2 separate regions of the Homo sapiens genome follow, and region 1 is linked to region 2. Evidence: fine-mapped expression QTL. A gene starts in region 2. The other region holds a variant in brackets. All regions are shown on one strand. Distances are between the middles of the regions. Region 1 overlaps CENPQ (centromere protein Q). Region 2 holds the start of CENPQ (centromere protein Q).

What was found.
Region 1: its variant is fine-mapped to the expression of CENPQ in whole blood (INTERVAL, PIP 0.99).

What each region holds. Positions count from the first base shown.
Region 1 is chr6:49,487,687-49,493,023 of GRCh38, forward strand. It overlaps CENPQ (centromere protein Q), which reads left to right. Exons shown (of 9, transcript NM_018132.4): 7 at 666-785; 8 at 921-998; 9 at 4,458-5,337. The coding sequence ends at 4,589. Among named protein-coding and RNA genes, the nearest start is that of GLYATL3, 9.6 kb to the right of the region's middle. The variant C/G (reference allele first, on the strand shown) is at 2,519.
Region 2 is chr6:49,460,275-49,465,663 of GRCh38, forward strand. It overlaps CENPQ (centromere protein Q), which reads left to right and starts at 3,096. Exons shown (of 9, transcript NM_018132.4): 1 at 3,096-3,179. It overlaps MMUT (methylmalonyl-CoA mutase), which reads right to left and starts at 2,979. Exons shown (of 13, transcript NM_000255.4): 1 at 2,829-2,979. RefSeq lists enhancers at 2,162-3,062, 2,649-2,718, 3,063-3,962.

The DNA of each region.
Region 1 (5,337 bases), 27 kb after region 2:
AGCAGTGCCATGTTTAATACCCTTTAGAAACCTGGAGGCTTGCTAATTTTAATTTTATACTTGGCCTGCACACAACACATCCTTGATGTGTTGTCCCCATACTTGTTTTATTCATTTCTTATTTTCTTTTCATCTTCCTCTCTAAATTATGTATTCCTTTAATGTGGGAAACTGTTACTCTTTTTTTTTATTCTCCCTGCTCTAATGCCCAACATTACTTCCTTTTGACAAATTAAAATAGCAGGCTCTTAAATGTTCCTAAATAAATGAAAACAATTCAGAATTTCTCCACTACATGAAGTTTTATGCTGCTTAAGGAAGGTTGCTGTATTTGTTGTCATCAGTTCTGGGCTCTGCTAGATTTACACTTGGATCTTCCAGGATCTCTGACCCTACCAGCATTGGTACGTTTTGAGGAAGTGTTCATGTACATCTCCTTATTCCAGGGAAATTAGATATCCTTATAACACATTAATACCTTGACATACCAGCTTTCCAAGAAGTCTCTTTTTTGAAAGAAACAAAAGTAAATTCACCAGTTGCTTCTAAAAATGTTTTAAATATATATGGTGTTTTTTTAAAATGTGTATGTATAACAATATCTATTAGGATTTAATATAATAATGTGTTTAAGTTAAAATGTTTTTTTTCTCTTTCTGACTCAGGAAGAAATAGATAAAATGGTAGAGACCACAGAGTTAATGACTGGGAATATTCAGAGCCTAAAGAACAAAATTCAGATTCTGGCAAGTGAGGTGGAAGAAGAAGAGGAGAGAGTAAAACAGGTAATTATTTTAAACTGTATTATTGGAATTTGGATATAATTTTTAATGGTTAAATTATGCAAAGATAACTTTCGAGTATAATATGATGAGAGAAATCAGCTTTTTGAAATAATCTGTAGCTTTCTTCTACTTTAGATGCATCAAATAAATAGTAGTGGAGTACTCTCTCTTCCGGAACTTTCTCAGAAAACTCTCAAAGCACCCACACTTCAGGTAAGTGCCTATTTACCATATTGATTACAGGCATACTTTAGAGATGTTGCAAATTTGGATTCAGACCACAGCAAAAAAGCAAATACTGCAATAACGCAAGTCACACAAATGTTTTGGTTTCCCACGGCATATGGAAGTTATGTTTACGCTATACTGTAGTCTAGTAAGTGTGAAAAAGCATTATTTCTTTTTTTTTTTTTTAAAGGGACATACCTTAATTTAGAAAACGCTTTACTGCTAAAAAATGTTAACAATCATCTGCACCTTCAGCAGGTCGTAATCTTTTTGCCAGTGGAGGGTCTTGCCTCAATGTTGATGGCTGCTGACTGATAGCGTGGTGATTACTGAAGGTTGGGATGCATGTGGCAATTTCTTAAAATAAGAAGACAATGAAATTTGCCACATCAGTTGATTCTTCCTTTCACGAAAGTTTTCCCTGTAGCATGTGATGCTGTTTCATAGCATTTTACCCACAGTAGAACCTCCTTCAAAATTGGAGTCAGTTCTCTCATTCCTTGTCACAGCTTTGTCAGCTAAGTTTTTGTCATATACTATATCCTTCATTGATATTTCAACTATGTTCATAACATCTTCATCATGAATAGATTCCATCTCAAGAAACCACTTTCTTTGCTCATCCATAAGAAGTAACTCCTCGTCCATCCAATTTTTATCATGAGATTGCAGCAATTCAGGTACATCTTCAGGCTCCACTTCTAATTCTGGTTCTCTTGCTGTTTCCACCACATCTTCAGTCACTTCCTCCACTAAAGTCTTGAACTTCTCAAAGTCATCCATGAGGATTCAAAATTGAATCCATTTTTTCTAAACTCCTGTTATTGGTATTTTGACTTCCTCTTGTGAATCATGAATGCTCTTACTGACATCTAGAATGATAAATTTATTTTAATATGTTTACAATTTATTTTGCCCAGATCCATCAGAGAAATCACTACCTAGGGCAGCTATAGCCTTATGAAATGTATTTCTTAAGTGATAAGACTTGAAAATTGAAATGACTCTTTGATTCAGAGGCTGCAGAACAGATGTGTTAGCAGATGTGAAAACAACATTAATCTCCTTGTATATCTTCATCAGAGCTCTTGGGTAACTGTGAACATTTTCAATGAGCAGTAATATTTTCAAAGGAATCTTCTTTTCTGAGCAGTAGCTCTTAACAGTGGGCTTAAAATATTCAGTAAGCCATGCTCTAAACAGTTGTACTGTCATCCAGGCTTTGTTGTTCCATTTACAGAGCACAGACAACACAGATGTAGTTGATTTAGTAGAATTAAGGACCCTGGGATTTTCAGAATGATCAGTGAGCATTGGCTTCAACTTCATGTCACCAGCTGCATTAGCCCCTAACAAGAGCCTAACAAAAGCATCTCCTTTAAAGCTTTGAAGCCAGGCATTGCCTTCTCTTTTCCAACTATCAAAGTCCTAGAGATAGCATCTTCTTCCAATAGAATGCTGTTTTATTTACATTGAAAATATGTTGTTTACTATAGCCACCTTCA[C/G]CAGTGATCTTAGCTAGCTAGGTCTTCTGGGTAACTAGCTGTAATTTTTCTATCAGCACTTGCTGCTTCACCTTGCACTTTTTATGTTATAAACACAGCTTCTTTCCTTAAACCTTATGAACTAACTTCTGCTAGCTTCAAACTTTTCTTCTGCAACTTCCTCACCTCTGTCAGCCTTCATAGACTTGAAAACAGTTAGGGCCTTGCTGTGGATTAGGATTTGGTTTAAGGGAATGTCGTGGCTGGTTTGATCTTCCATCCAGACCACTCAGACTTCCCATATCAACAATAAGGCTGTTTTGCTTTCTCATTATTCATGTATTCACTGAAGTAGCACTTTAAATTTTCTTCAAGAACTTTTCCTTTGCATTCACAACTTGGGCGTTTGGCACAAGAGGCCTAGCTTTTGGTTTGCGTGGCTTTTGATAGGCCTTCCTCACTAAACTTAGTAATCTCTAGTTTTTGATTTAAAGTAAGAGACATGATTCTTCTTTTCACCTGAACACTTAGAGGCCATTGTAGCATTATTAACTGGCCTAATTTCAATATCGTTGTGTCACAGGGAATAGGGAGGCCCAAGGAGAGGGAGAGAAACTGGGAAATAAATGGCCGGTTGGTGGAGCCGTCAGAACACATAACAATTACCAATTCAGTTCACTGTTTGATATGGTTGCAGTTATGGCACCCAGAACAATTACAGCAGTTCCATCAAAGAACACTGGGCATAGATCACCATAACAGATACCGTAATAATTTTTAAAGTTTGAACTATTACAAGAATTACCAAAATGTGATGTAGAGATACAAAGTGAGCATGTGCTTTTGGAAAAATGGTGCTGATAGACCTCCTTTGCACAGAGTTGCCACAAACCTTCAGTTTGTAAAAAATGCAGTGTCTGGGAACACGGTAAAATGAGGCATCCTGGTATATCATAGACCAATTATACATTACATATATGAAAACATTATGTCCTATTTCGTTCTTTAAACAAATGGAACCTGATATAAACTGTTTGGCAAATTACTTTTCTCATTCGACTGTATAGTTTGAACATCTTGTCAGTCACGTAGATCTCTCATTTTTGTTGATAGCTATGTAACATTCTGTTGTATGGAGGTCATATAATTTGTAAATTACTGATGGAAATACATAATTTTTTTAATACAGGTAAGACTGGGTACACCCTTGTACATATGTCTTTACTGATTTGTATAGTCATAATTGTAGGATACATTTCTAGAAGTAAATACTGACAGTTTGGTTTTTTTAATGCTTCTAACAATAGCATATAACTCCTTATAAAATAGTACTGTCTTATTTGTAGTAAACTATTTCTTCCAAGGGCTCTAGTAGACATTGTAGTATAAATGTTTGTAGCATTGGAAAGTCTTCATGTTTTCTCAAGAAGTAATTTGAAATTTTCCTATTGGCTGGGCACAGTGGCTCACACCTGTAATCCCAGCACTTTGGGAGGCCAAGGCAGGCGGATTGCCTGAGGTCAGGAGTTCGAGAACAGCCTGACCAACATGGAGAAACCCCATCTCTACTAAAAATACAAAATTAGCCAGGTGTGGTGGCACATGCCTGTAATCCCAGCTATTCGGGAGGCTGAGGCAGGAGAATTGCTTGAACCTGGGAGCTGGAGGTTGCAGTGAGCCAGGACTGCGCCATTGTACTCCAGCCTGGGCAAGAAGAGCAAAACTCCACCTCAAAAAAACAAAAACAAACAAACAAACAAATCCTATCATTTACCAGTGGTGAAAGGAGCAGGATGGGGAGAGGGAGAGATAGATTTGAAAGAAGAATGGCGATTCGTTGACAATTATTGAAGTTGGATGATAGATACTTAAGGTTTATTTTACTGTTCTCTCTAACATACATTTGAGATTTCTCATAATAAAATGTTAACAACTACATTTAATACTATCTTTCCCACAGAAAGAAATTTTGGCGCTAATTCCAAACCAGAATGCTCTTCTAAAGGACTTGGATATTCTTCATAATTCATCACAGATGAAGAGCATGTCAACCTTCATTGAAGAAGCCTATAAGAAACTGGATGCATCTTAAAGAGTGTTTTTTTTTTAGATTGTTCCATATTAATTTAATGTTCGTGAATTTGTAAAACTGTTAACCTATGATTATATGTACAGAGGCTAAGGCTTCTGCAGGATTTATTATCTCCTGATATGCACTTTAAAATTAGTCTTTGTAGTTCTATCATTAGCATCTAATGTAGTTCTGAAGACTGTTTTTAGCAGTTGCCAAATCTAGGAAACTAACATTTATATTGCTGTATCTATAAGTATTTGCCTAAAACCATAAAATAGGAATTGCCTTAAGGATCTAGTAGTTTATAATGCCTGAATGGAACTCATTTATTGGTTAACAGCTCATATCAGGAGCTGTGATAAGTAAGTGTTTACATACACTGTCTAGTGCATAAAAACCTTAGTGTTTGCTATCATTCATTCTGTAGCCAATGGCTTACAGTTTCTGTCTGGTCATCTGGAACTTGAAAAATCCTCAAATGCCTTCACTCTTTTACCTAACTCCCTAGTCTTTTTGGGAAGTAGTTAAGATATGCCTGCTATCTTTAACTTTGGAGGTAGTATCAAAATTTTACTTCTTTGGTTGTTTAGTGAATTAATGTTGAATATTTTCTACTGTCATCAAAACATATTCCCAAAAAGTATTAAAAAGGAACCTTAGCACATTTATTTTATTAAAACAAGAAAACCCAAAATATATAAACCTTTTCTTATTATGATAATAAGCTTATATATGTGAATAAGTTATAACCTAGTGTATAAAAAAT
Region 2 (5,389 bases):
TTATTATCCTTATTTTACAGATTAGGAAACTGAGGCACAGAAGAGCCAGCATTGATTGGAACCTATGCAGCCTGTTTCAAAGTCCTTGCATTTAACTAATATGCACACAATTCATCCCAGAACCCATAAGGTGAGCTAAATGGCCTCTTCAATAATCTACTTCTGTGCTAGTTTATAAACTGCTCCAACATTAGAGCTGCATATTCCGGATAACTAGCATAGACTTTTATACTAGGTTGCTGGGTTCAGCGTCATCATTTTCCAGATGTAGAAACTGAGGCTCAGAGAAATAAAGTCGCTTGATCAAAATCCCACCTCACAAAGCCGTAAACTGTTTACCTGAATTACTAAAACTTGTCAGAGTCATACAGCGTAAACATATAGAGCCCATTGTTTAAAAAGATATTGAGATGCAAACATTAATATATTCACTATACTATGTGTTTTATACTGGATAAGGCAACAAGTAAAGGGAGTTTCAAATTTTATTTTCCATACCACTTCTTACCTATCAGTTTAGTAAAGCTTAAATGAAATCAATACTCAACACTTATTATGGGGTCGTTAAACAAGAGACATAAACCACTGGTGACAGTATTAACTATTTTAACTACTTTGGAAAGTAAATTGTCAATATACATGAAATGCTTCAGAAATGTTTATGCCATTCCACTGAGGAACATTACTCCTGGGAAAGCTTCTGTAGTAATATATAAAATAGATGTTTCCTATAGTTTTATTTGTAATAGAGAAAACTTAGGAAAATCGTAAGTATCTCATAACATATGAATAAGTGAATTACAGCATATACAAATGATAGAATTTCATGTAGTTATCAAAATATGTTTAGAAAGCTGGCAAAACTAATCTTTGATGTCAGAAGTCAGAAGAATGGTTACTTAATGGTTGCTAGAATACAACAGGAGCAAGAGAGGGGCTTTTGGGGGTAATGGTCTTGATCTGATTGCCACTTACATAGATATATTCTGTTTGTGGAAATTCATCAAATTATACAGTTATGTTTTATGCAGTTTCTGTAAATATATGTATAAGTAAAAAGTTAAAAATGTGTTATGCATAGTTTCCCAAAAAAAGAGAAACAAACTCAAAAAGTAGTAAGTAAAAGACTCAAGACACGTAATTGTAAGTGCAACAGGTTCAACTATGTAAAAAGTACATAGAACAAAGTCTAAATGGAAACATAACAAAAAAGGCTGGGCATGGTGGTTCACGCCTGGAATCCCAGCACTTCAGGAGGCCGAGGCAGGTGGATCACCTGAGGTCAGGGGTTCAAGACCAGCCTGGCCAACACGGTGAAACCCAGTCTCTACTAAAAATACAAAAATTAGCTGGGCATGGTGGCGCACACCAGTAATCCCAGGTACTCAGGAGGCTGAGGCATGAGAATCACTTCAACCCGGGAAGCAGAGGTTGCAGTGAGCAGAGATCGTGCCACTGCACTCCAACCTGGGCAACAGAGAGAGACCCCGTCTCAAAACAAAACAAAAAAACCTTCCATTTTTTTAATACTAGCACGATTTTTATTCTTTAAATCCATGGGGTCCTTGTCATCCATCTTTTTGCAAGCCATCCACTACATTTACTAGCTTAAAAGGTGGATGAAAAAAATAATGAAGCAACAACTAAACTGTTTCAATAGTAATCCTGTAAAAGGTAATTTGAAAACCACCTGAGACTAAACTGTTGGCAGGAAATATCACACTCATTTCACGTGGGCTTTCCTAAATCTGAACAACTAATAGGAAAGAGCCCCGTTTAAGTGACTTCCTGAAAATCACATGTGAATTGGTGGAGGCTGGAAACAGACACCATTTTTAGATAAAAACACAACTACTGCGGATGGCAATACGACCTCTGAATTTTCTCAGAAGACCATCAAGAGAGGCCTCAAGCATTCAAAGAAGCAACATGCAAAGCAAATATGTTACTGACAACTAAAATGAGTTAAAGAGCAATGATTAATCCCACCCCCACACCTCAAAAACAAATCAGTGAGAAAAAGATTTCTTGAACCAATAAGTTTCAAGCTTTGGCTGCTGACGTATGATTGCACATTAATACTTCAAGAAGGTACTTTGATGTTCAACTAGTTGGGTTTGGAGATGGAAACATAGGGCATGAAAATTATATTTGATATTAGCATAAGTACATCATTAAACACAAAATTATATTGGCAGAAAATCATCAAGTGGTTTAAAACTTTACACACATACGTTATCCAGGGCTTCGAGCTTCCCTAAGACCACCTTCTTTCTAGATAAAACTGAGAACGAGTTAGTAATGTAAGCTTTTATGTCAATTTAGACCTGTCTTTTCTATTCTACCTCTCACTCTTAACACTGTTTACACTCTTAATCCTGTTTACACACAGAAAATCACTTTTATTCCCGAAAACTCTTAGAAAAACCCTGACAATAACATAACCCACAACCTAGAAGGGAGGCAGCCATGAAGCAGGCGCATCCCTTTGGAACCATACAAAAAGTGACCTCTGCCAACGGGAACAGTTCAGGGTGCTTAAGTGGCCAAAGAAGATACCGACATGGCCCCTAAAGTATTAAAAGCACCTTCTTTCCAGAAGTACCTCCGAATTGCCAGGGACTTCGCCCAAAACTAGAGGTTGGTCGAAGTGAAAATCTAAACCTAAGGAGAAGGCAGAGAGTGGGATCCCGTCACAGTAGGAAGGTAAAGAAGACAGAAGTAAAGGACAGAGCGGGAGAGAAAGGACAAAAGTTCAAAATACAGGGGTAGAGGAGGGACAGGAGCCAGAAGAATGGAGCGATCTGAAAGGTGTACGTCCTACTCACTGGTAGGCCTGTTTTGGACTCCGCTGTGGGAGAGGGCGGCTGCACTTCTGCGTCCCCCGCCTCACCTGTCAGACATCCACACAGCCAGGCCTCCCCGCCCTCACCAAGCCCACACAAACCGCGCCACCGCCAGCGTCAGCCGGACGACTCTGGGGGCGTAGGCCGACACCGCCCTCCCTCCAGCCAATCTAATAGCGCTCTCATGGGCGCATTCCTGATGACGTTTAGGGGTAGGGTTAGATGCCCGTTTCCGCTTTCTTCCCACCCACTTCCGGGTCTCCTCTGTTTACGAATGTTTGGGCGCGAATTACTCTAAGCGCGGCTCTCAGAAGGGTGCAAGAAGAATCAGTGGTGAGTCGTGATATCCTTAACCGGCTGGGTGGATCTAAAGTTCAGGGATGAGTTTTAAAGCCAACGCGTTTGTGGCAGACTCCGCAGTTTGCATTTGAGGATAGCGAGGGGGGATTGCTTACGGGGAAATGCCCGATGTCCTAAAAGATCTGCCCTTAGGATCCTGAGATTGAGATGTTTGATTAGGGGGGAGGGAGCAAAGCCATGAATACTTCCTATTTCTCCCGAATCATCCTCATGGCTCATCCTCATTGCTAAATTTCTCCCGCGGGCACTAGTGAAGTCAAGTGCAGCCTTGGACATTAGTGTCTGTGTTTCTCCAGGAGTCCTACTCACTCTTGTGCCCACATAGAGGTCTAAATTGAGGTAATTGAGTCCCATGAGTATCAACAAGCTGGTAAGAAAAACAAGACAACCTAGAATGCCTCCCTCTCTCCTAAAGCATATAGTCTGGCGGCAAACTACTGTACCAGCCTTATTTCTTTTCACTTCTCCTATACACATTAAAAGCCTCGCTGGATTATCCTGTCCCTGAACACGCCAGGTTTTTTGTGTTTTTTCCGAGCTTTCCTGCCGTCCGAGTTTTACTGTTTTCCCTTGGATGCTTCATTTTTCTACTTTTTGGCTAAATATTTCAAAATGTTATTAGAATAATACTTTTTCTATGAATAATGTACAAACATACTTCCGAGATATTGCGGGGTCGGTTCCAGACCAATAAAGCCTGTCACACGATTTTTTTGGTTTCCCAGTGCATATAACAGTTGTATTTACACTGTATTGTAACCTATTAAGTGTGCAATAGCATTATGTGTAAAAAAAAATTACATGCTGTAATTTTAAAATATTTTATTGCTAAAAAATGCTACTAATCATCTCAGCCTTCAGCAAGTCCTAATCTTTTTGCTGGTGGAGGGTCTTGCTTGATGTTGATGGCTGTTGACCAATCAGGGTGATGGTTGCTGAAGATTGGAGTTGCTGTGGCAGTTTCTTAAAATAACAAAATAATGAATTTTGTACAGCAGTTGACTCTTCCATTCACTAAAGATTTCTCTGTAGCATGTGATGCTGTTTGAAAGCATTTTACCCACTGTAGAACTTCTTTCAAAATTAGAGTAAATCCTCTTAACCCCTACCATTGCTTTAGCAACTAAGGTTTTGTGATATTCTGAATTCTTTGTTGATATTTCAAGAATATTCACAGCATCTTCACCAGGGGTAGATTCCATCTCAAGAACTTCGCTCATTCATAAGAAGCAACTTCTTTTCCACTAGTTTTATCATGAGATTGCAGCAATTCAGGTACATCTTCAGGCTCCACTATTTCTCTTGCTATTGCCACCAGATCTTTCATCACTTCCTCCACTGAAGTCTTGAACAAAGTCATGACCTTTACAAAGTCATCCATGAGGGTTGGAATCAACTTTTTCCAGACTCCTGTTAATGTTGATATTTTGACCTCCTCCCGTGAATCATGAATGTTCTTACTAGCATTTGGGATGGTGAATCATTTCCAGAAGTTTTCAATTTATTTTGCCCAGATCCATCAGAGGAATCACTGTCTAGGGCAGCTATAGCTTTACAAAATGTATTTCTTAAATAATATAACTTGAAAGTCAAAATTATTCTTTGATTCATGGGCTGCAGAATGGATGTTGTGTTAGCAGACATGAAAACAGCATTAATCTCCTTGTACATCTCTATCAGAGCTCTTGGGTGACCAAGTACGTGGTCATTGAGCAGTATTATTTTGAAAGGAATCTTTTTGTGAGCTGTAGGTCTCAAAGATGGGCTTAAAATACTCAGTAAACCGTGCTGTAAACAGATGTGCTGTCACTCATGCTTTGTTCTTCCATTTCCAGAGCACAGACAGAGTAGATTTAAAAGAATAAGAGCCCTAGGATATTTCAGAATGGTCAATGAGCATTGGCTTCAAGTCACCACCCATATTAGCCCCTACAAGAGAGTCAGCCTGTCTTTTGAAGCTTTGAAGCCAGGCAATGACTTCTTTCTAGATATGAAAGTCCTAGATAGCATCTTCCAATAGAAGGCTGTTTTGTCTTCATTGAAAATCTGTTGTTTAGTGTAGCCCCTTCATCAATTATCTTACCTAGAACTGGATAACTTGCTGCAGCTTCTGCATCAGCACTTGCTGCTTCACTTTGTACTTTCATGTTATGCAGATAGCTTACTTCCTTAAACCTCAGGAA